2 separate regions of the Homo sapiens genome follow, and region 2 is linked to region 1. A link means that fine-mapping ties the variant in region 1 to the plasma level of a protein whose gene starts in the linked region. Region 1 holds a variant in brackets. A gene starts in the other region. All regions are shown on their reverse strands.

Region 1 (2,911 bases):
TCCTTACATGGCGCCAGCATCTCTCTCCTACTTTACCCTCCTAAGAGCATGCTCTGTCCCTCAGAACGGGTCTGAACCTGTGTTTACTACAGCAGCCCTTTGACTGTCTAAAGGAGCCACCGCAACCTCCCTATACGTCCCTCGTTCCTCCCTAGGTGCTTTTGTGCGGTGGCTCCCGCACCTGGTTGCGGTCATCCGAAGGCTGATTAGTTTGCCCGCGTTCTTTGGAAACTGTGCTCCCTGCTCCCTCAAAACTGACAGCGATTTTCCAGGTAGAGTGAAAGCAACATAAGCCACACGTGGGCAGTGTGGGGGCAATGCTGGAAACCTGGGCCGCTGACCCCATAGACCACCAAGGGTTGGCGGCTGCTTCAGGAACTGAAAGACGCGCAGGTCAGCCCAGCCTGGGATGACCCCTTCCAGAGGGGCCAGGCAGCCTTGACCAGACCTGGTGCTAAGTACTTGCTAAGCCCTGGGTGGCCTGTAGCTTCTCACTGTCCGGGGTAAAAGCAAGCCCTGGGCCAGAGTCTTGTACACTGGAATTCGTGGACACTGGTGGGGAAAACCACTGGCCTCTGAGCCTGGCATAGAAGGGAGAAGCCCGCCCCCTTGTGGATCTCTGGAGAGTAACAGGGTGCAAAAAGCACTGAAACCCCAACCGGAGACAGGGAGTCTCGGGGAGCAGCCACCTCCTCTCAGCGCTCCCATTTCACCAACCACCTCTGGGGACCTGCAAGAGAATTGATCTGTGCTGGCACGGGAGTGGTAGCAGGGGACATAAAAGGAAGCTAGGAAGTTGAGACCCCTGGATTATGTCTGGCAACAGCGAGTTAGAAATCGGGCAAGTGTTATTAGCTGTTTAAAAAAAGAAAGAAAAAAAATGGCATCTGGAGGTCTTTCCTGGTTCTGCCACTCCCTGTGTGGCCCCAGGAAAACTACAGTCTGTCTCTGGGCCTCCAAGGACCTTGCTAGGTAAAGGCTCCAATCCCTCTGAATGCTGAAGCCTCAGGCTTTCACATCTCAGTCCTGACAGTGGTCTGTGGTTGGTGGCAACACAGTCCTGATTGAAGAGAACATGGGAGGCAGCAAGGGC[C/A]AAGGGCATTGCGCAAGGGGAAGCAGAGGGCACCAGCTTGGTCGCCCACCCGCAGCAGCCCTGGACAGCACAGCACCCCTATCGCTACACCATGCTGCTAGGAGCCCGAAGGGTCATTTTCCAGAGTGAGTCCAAGAGGGGTCATGTCCCCTCCTTCCACAGTTTTGGCCAAATCTACATCATTTCTCCATCACGTGGACACCAGCCCAGAGGTGACTGTGCCATAAAACATACTTGACCCAGAGAGATGTGACCCAGGCCCATTGTCCAAGACAGCAGCCTTGCTCACATGCTTCCAGACTGCCTTTCCTCTGCACAAAGCACATGATCAAAGATTGTGTTTTTAACGTATTTTCAAGATGAATTCTTTGCTACTCTGTAACTGATCAGGATAATTGGGCTAAATCTAGCCCTGGGAAATGCAAACCAGAAGCACTTTCCTCGAAGCTCCCCAGATTAAAAAATGAATGATATGTTAAGATGGCTCAGATTTCCGACTGCACTACATTCGCAGAGAAACAGAGCCACTAAGTCAGCGAAGATAGTGTTTTAAAGGCCAGCTGTCCTCCAGAAGAATGAAAAGTATTAAAACTCTTTTAGATGGGGCACAGTGGCTCATGCCTGTAATCCCAGCACTTTGGGAGGCCAAGGCGGATGAATCACTTGAGGTCAGGAGTTCGAGACCAGCCTGGCCAATGTGGTAGAACCCCATCTCTACCCAAAATACAAAAATTAGCCAGGCATGGTGCCATGCGCCTGTAGTGTCAGCTACTCAAGTGGCTGAGGCACAAGAATCACTTGAACCCGGAAGGTGGAGGTTGCAGTGAGCTGAGATTGTACCACTACACTCCAGCCTGGGCTACAGGGCAAGGCTGTTTCAAAAAAAAAAAAAAAGCTGTTTTAAAATGGCTTTGTGCCGGGTGCAGTGGCTCACGCCTGTAATCCCAGCACTCTGGGAGGCCAAGGTGGGTGGATCACCTGAGGTCAGGGGTTCAAGACCACCCTGGCCAACATGGTGGAACCCCTATCTCTACCAAAAATATAAAAATTAGCCGGGCATGGTGGTGTGCATATATAATCCCAGCTACTCGGGAGGCTGAGGCAGGTGAATCGCTTGAACCCAGGAGGCGGAGGTTGCAGTGAGCCAAGATTGTGCCACTACACTCCAGCCTGGGTGACACAGTGAGACTCTGTCTCAAAAAATAAATAAAATAAAATTTAAAAATGCCTTTGTAGAAATTATCTGAAATAATTATGCCCTCAGTCTAGCATGCTCCTAGCTGGAAATGTCCAGGAAAAATGTTAGGGGTAGAAGAGTCATCTCTGCACACTATAGTACACTAAAGCTTTGGCTGAAACTACATAGCCTGAAATGTCTCATTTTTTAACGGCATTATGAGTTATTACATAAACATCCTTTAAAATTCAGAGCAGTCCAACAATAAGAACAACCCAAGTTCTACCTAAAAAACTATAGTCAGGTAGAATATGTAACTGTAGACAGAACACTTTTCAAACACCTATTTAGACCACCTGGTTTCTGCAGTATTGCCAAATTCTAAAATTGTAATGAAAAATGTAAAGTTTGAAACCTACAAGTCATCAGAGGTTCAGTGAGCAGATTGTGCCATTCCAAAACCAAAAATGTGCTTGCATAAGCAAGTCACTGGGGCTAACCTTTCTGGATTGAGAGTCTGGCCTTCAGTTCAGACTGTGGCTATGCCAGGGTCAGAAATGTGACAAAACTGCGCTTTCACGGAGGTTAGCCAAGGTTCACAGGGTCATGACTGGGCCATTTTATCAGTCATGTCAGGCTCA
Region 2 (2,833 bases), not on the chromosome of region 1:
TAAATCTACAACTGAGTCAAAATTTAAACTGAAAGCTTCTTTTCAACAAATTATTTACTAAAAGATCATCAATGAACACAGCAACCCATAAATATGCAATCATAATACACCCTCTCTCAGCTCTGTTTTATTAGGCAGCAATATTTATTGTGTCAGCAAACGCAGTGCGTTTTTACTTGTTTCTGTTGATTTCCTTAGTCTTCCGAACCTGATAATTGTTTGATACAGCCATTTACCTTCACCCATTTATCACTTCAAAACATTGACCTCAACTCTTGTCATGAAAAAATTTATGTAGTATAAACTCAGATAGCTTGGCTTTTGCCTAAACCGAAATGAATTCCTTCTCCAGCGCCACACAGCATGCTGATCTAGCAACAAGTAGTCCTCTATCATTCTGGGGCTTTGCATTTGACTGCCTTAATGTATTTCCAACAAGGTTTTATAATGTGTAGTTTCTAACCAAATTTTGCCAAAAGTGATTGGCATGTAAAACACTCCTAAGCAAAAATGTTTACCTTGTAGGTCTATATTTCATCTCAGAAATTCTTATTCACATTACTTAATCTCCCCCAAGTGGTTACTTATTAGACTTATCATTAACTACTAAACTAAAATAAATGGAAACAAATTATTTTTTGAGTCTTCTAACCACTGATAGTGTTAACTAAGCAGCTGACAGCCAAGTGTCATTCTCTATTAAGGATGGAATTGTCCTTTCCGACTCATGCTTCCAAATCAGAAATAAAGACAGTATTTGAGGGTTTAGGGTATAACAGGCAAAGAAACCCGAGAAAGAAATCCAGAATTACATCTTGTCCTTATGTTTGTTTTTTGTGGCTGTCACCTCTCTTTCCCTTTGTCGCATACCTTATTCCTGACCTTCATACTTAAATCTTATCTCATCATTTTCCCACTGAGCTTAAATGACAGAACCAACGCAGAAAGTTTTGTTGTCCCAAGAATTTGGTTGTAGTAATCATTACTGGAAACAGACATTACAAACTGTCATTTCACCGAGACGTCATACAAAGCCTATCTGAAATTTACGTCTATAAGGATGATGTCAAAGATAAGAATTTCCAGCTGGATGAAATGGAAATTGCCAAAGTCCATAAAACTCAGAAATTAACTGGATTCAACTCACAAACTATGTACAGTTATGTGCAATTTTGTAATGATAAAGACAATTTGTAAGATCTGGTTATATTATCACATTTAATGGATTCACCTTATCAGAGAGAGCAGTTGAGTTCATATTACCTGATCTCCACACTTACCAAGCAGACACACATTATGCAAGGGTTGTCTGTGATAAATGGAATCTGGAGGACTTCACCTTCATTTTCACATTTTGCAACAGAACCTGAAATTCAGGGGGGAAAAATGTTTCATTTAAAGTTAGCTTAGCAGCATGATTTCAACATTTAAAATTTTTACACTAATCCTTTTTGAAACCTCTACCCAAACTTCAGAATTCTTAATGTGGTTTAAATTATTAAATTCACCAAAGCAAAACCTCTGCCCCCAACTCCATTTTCAATAATTTTATTTAAACAGGTTCAAAAAAGAAAAGACTATGATATAGGGATAAATTATCTGTTCTCAGATGGTCTAAGCACAATTCCAAGTATTTCACTGGATTTTTAATAACACTCCTCCTTTATGAAGATATTTCAACTAAGCACACAGCCCCATACGCAAAGAAAAAAATAAAAAATAAAATTTAAAAAAACCCTCAAATTGGGGCAGATTTTAAATTGACCAAAACTCAGAACTGAGTCAATAAACAGGCCTTTCTATGAATCTGTCTCGCATTGTCTTAGGTTTAAATCACTTTTTGAAACGCAATCCCCTTTTCCCTTCTCTTAGAAATTGACTCCATATTTTCTTTTCTGCACCAGGTGTCAGTAAAGTATGTCCTTCAGAATAGCAGCTGAGGTCTTCACCTGCCTGAAAACATATAATTATTATATCCGGCTATTAGTGCCCTTTTTAAATGATAGTTTCTTTAAATTCAAGGTCTTGAGAGCCAGTGCTTTAAAAAGCACTCCTAGCACAGTGGATGTATTGCAACCCCAAAGATGAGAAAGGAAGATGTGCGGAAAACTGCACAAATTTTTTTCCTGAGTTCTACAGAGGGAAAGATTAAAATAAAAGTTGAGGAAAGCATTAAAAATAAATAAAATAATTTCTCAAATTCAAATAGAAGAATGTCTATTATTACTACATTGAAGGCAACAGCCTCTCAGCCCGCAACCTCTTCACCAGCCTTCCCAGCCCTCCCGGGGCTTCGCTTCATCCCCATCGACCAGCGCAGGGCAAGCGCCAAGGTGCGCGCTCCCCACCCTCCCATCCCCGGGGCAAGCCAGCGCCACCTTTCCCAGGTACCAAACCGGCGTCCCGGAGGGCCGGTCCCTCCCGCCCCCTCCCCTACCTGTCAAGAAGGAGGAAGCCAGAGACATGGGGACCCCCGAGCAATTGAGTAGCAGCAAGACGCAGCACGTAATCCCAGGCGAGCGGCGGCAGTAACGCTCAGCCAGAGCCCCGACGCCGGAGAACCAGAGCATCGTCACCTGGAGGGAATCCCTGGCGACTGCAGGTCCCGCGCCGCCGCCTCTGCTCAGCTGCCGCAGCTCACAGTCGAAAAGGGCTCTCAGCCGGCGTGTCGGGAGACCGTCCGCGAAGGAGGGAGGCGGGCGCCCGAGAGCTGGGGGGCGGGGGGGTGTGAGGGAGGGCGGGGGGAGAGACCAAGGTGTGGGGGCGCCCGGGGAGGAGGGGTCCTGCGGCCAGGCTCCTCCGATGCGGCTTTTTTTTTTTTTTTCCTGAGGGA

Which allele goes with the higher level. Alleles are on the strand shown, and positions count from the first base shown. The strength of an association depends on the size of the effect and on how common the allele is.
For the plasma level of the protein whose gene starts at base 2,645 in region 2, allele A in region 1 goes with a higher level than allele C (weak association).

Evidence for each region. A credible set is the group of variants that fine-mapping cannot tell apart. PIP is the chance, under the fine-mapping model, that this variant and not a neighbour inherited with it causes the effect. Protein levels are from antibody-based Olink assays in UK Biobank. Linkage for the fine-mapping came from a reference panel and not from the study's own genotypes, which makes the PIPs less certain.
Region 2: BMPER starts here. The variant in region 1 is the best candidate, but not a certain one, in a credible set for the plasma level of the BMPER protein (UK Biobank, PIP 0.61).

Annotation. Positions count from the first base shown.
Region 1 is chr10:93,078,150-93,081,060 of GRCh38, reverse strand. No RefSeq gene overlaps it. Among named protein-coding and RNA genes, the nearest start is that of CYP26A1, 5.7 kb to the right of the region's middle. The variant C/A (reference allele first, on the strand shown) is at 1,094.
Region 2 is chr7:33,905,351-33,908,183 of GRCh38, reverse strand. BMPER (BMP binding endothelial regulator) reads right to left here and starts at 2,645. Exons shown (of 15, transcript NM_001365308.1): 1 at 2,438-2,645; 2 at 1,281-1,366. The coding sequence starts at 2,570.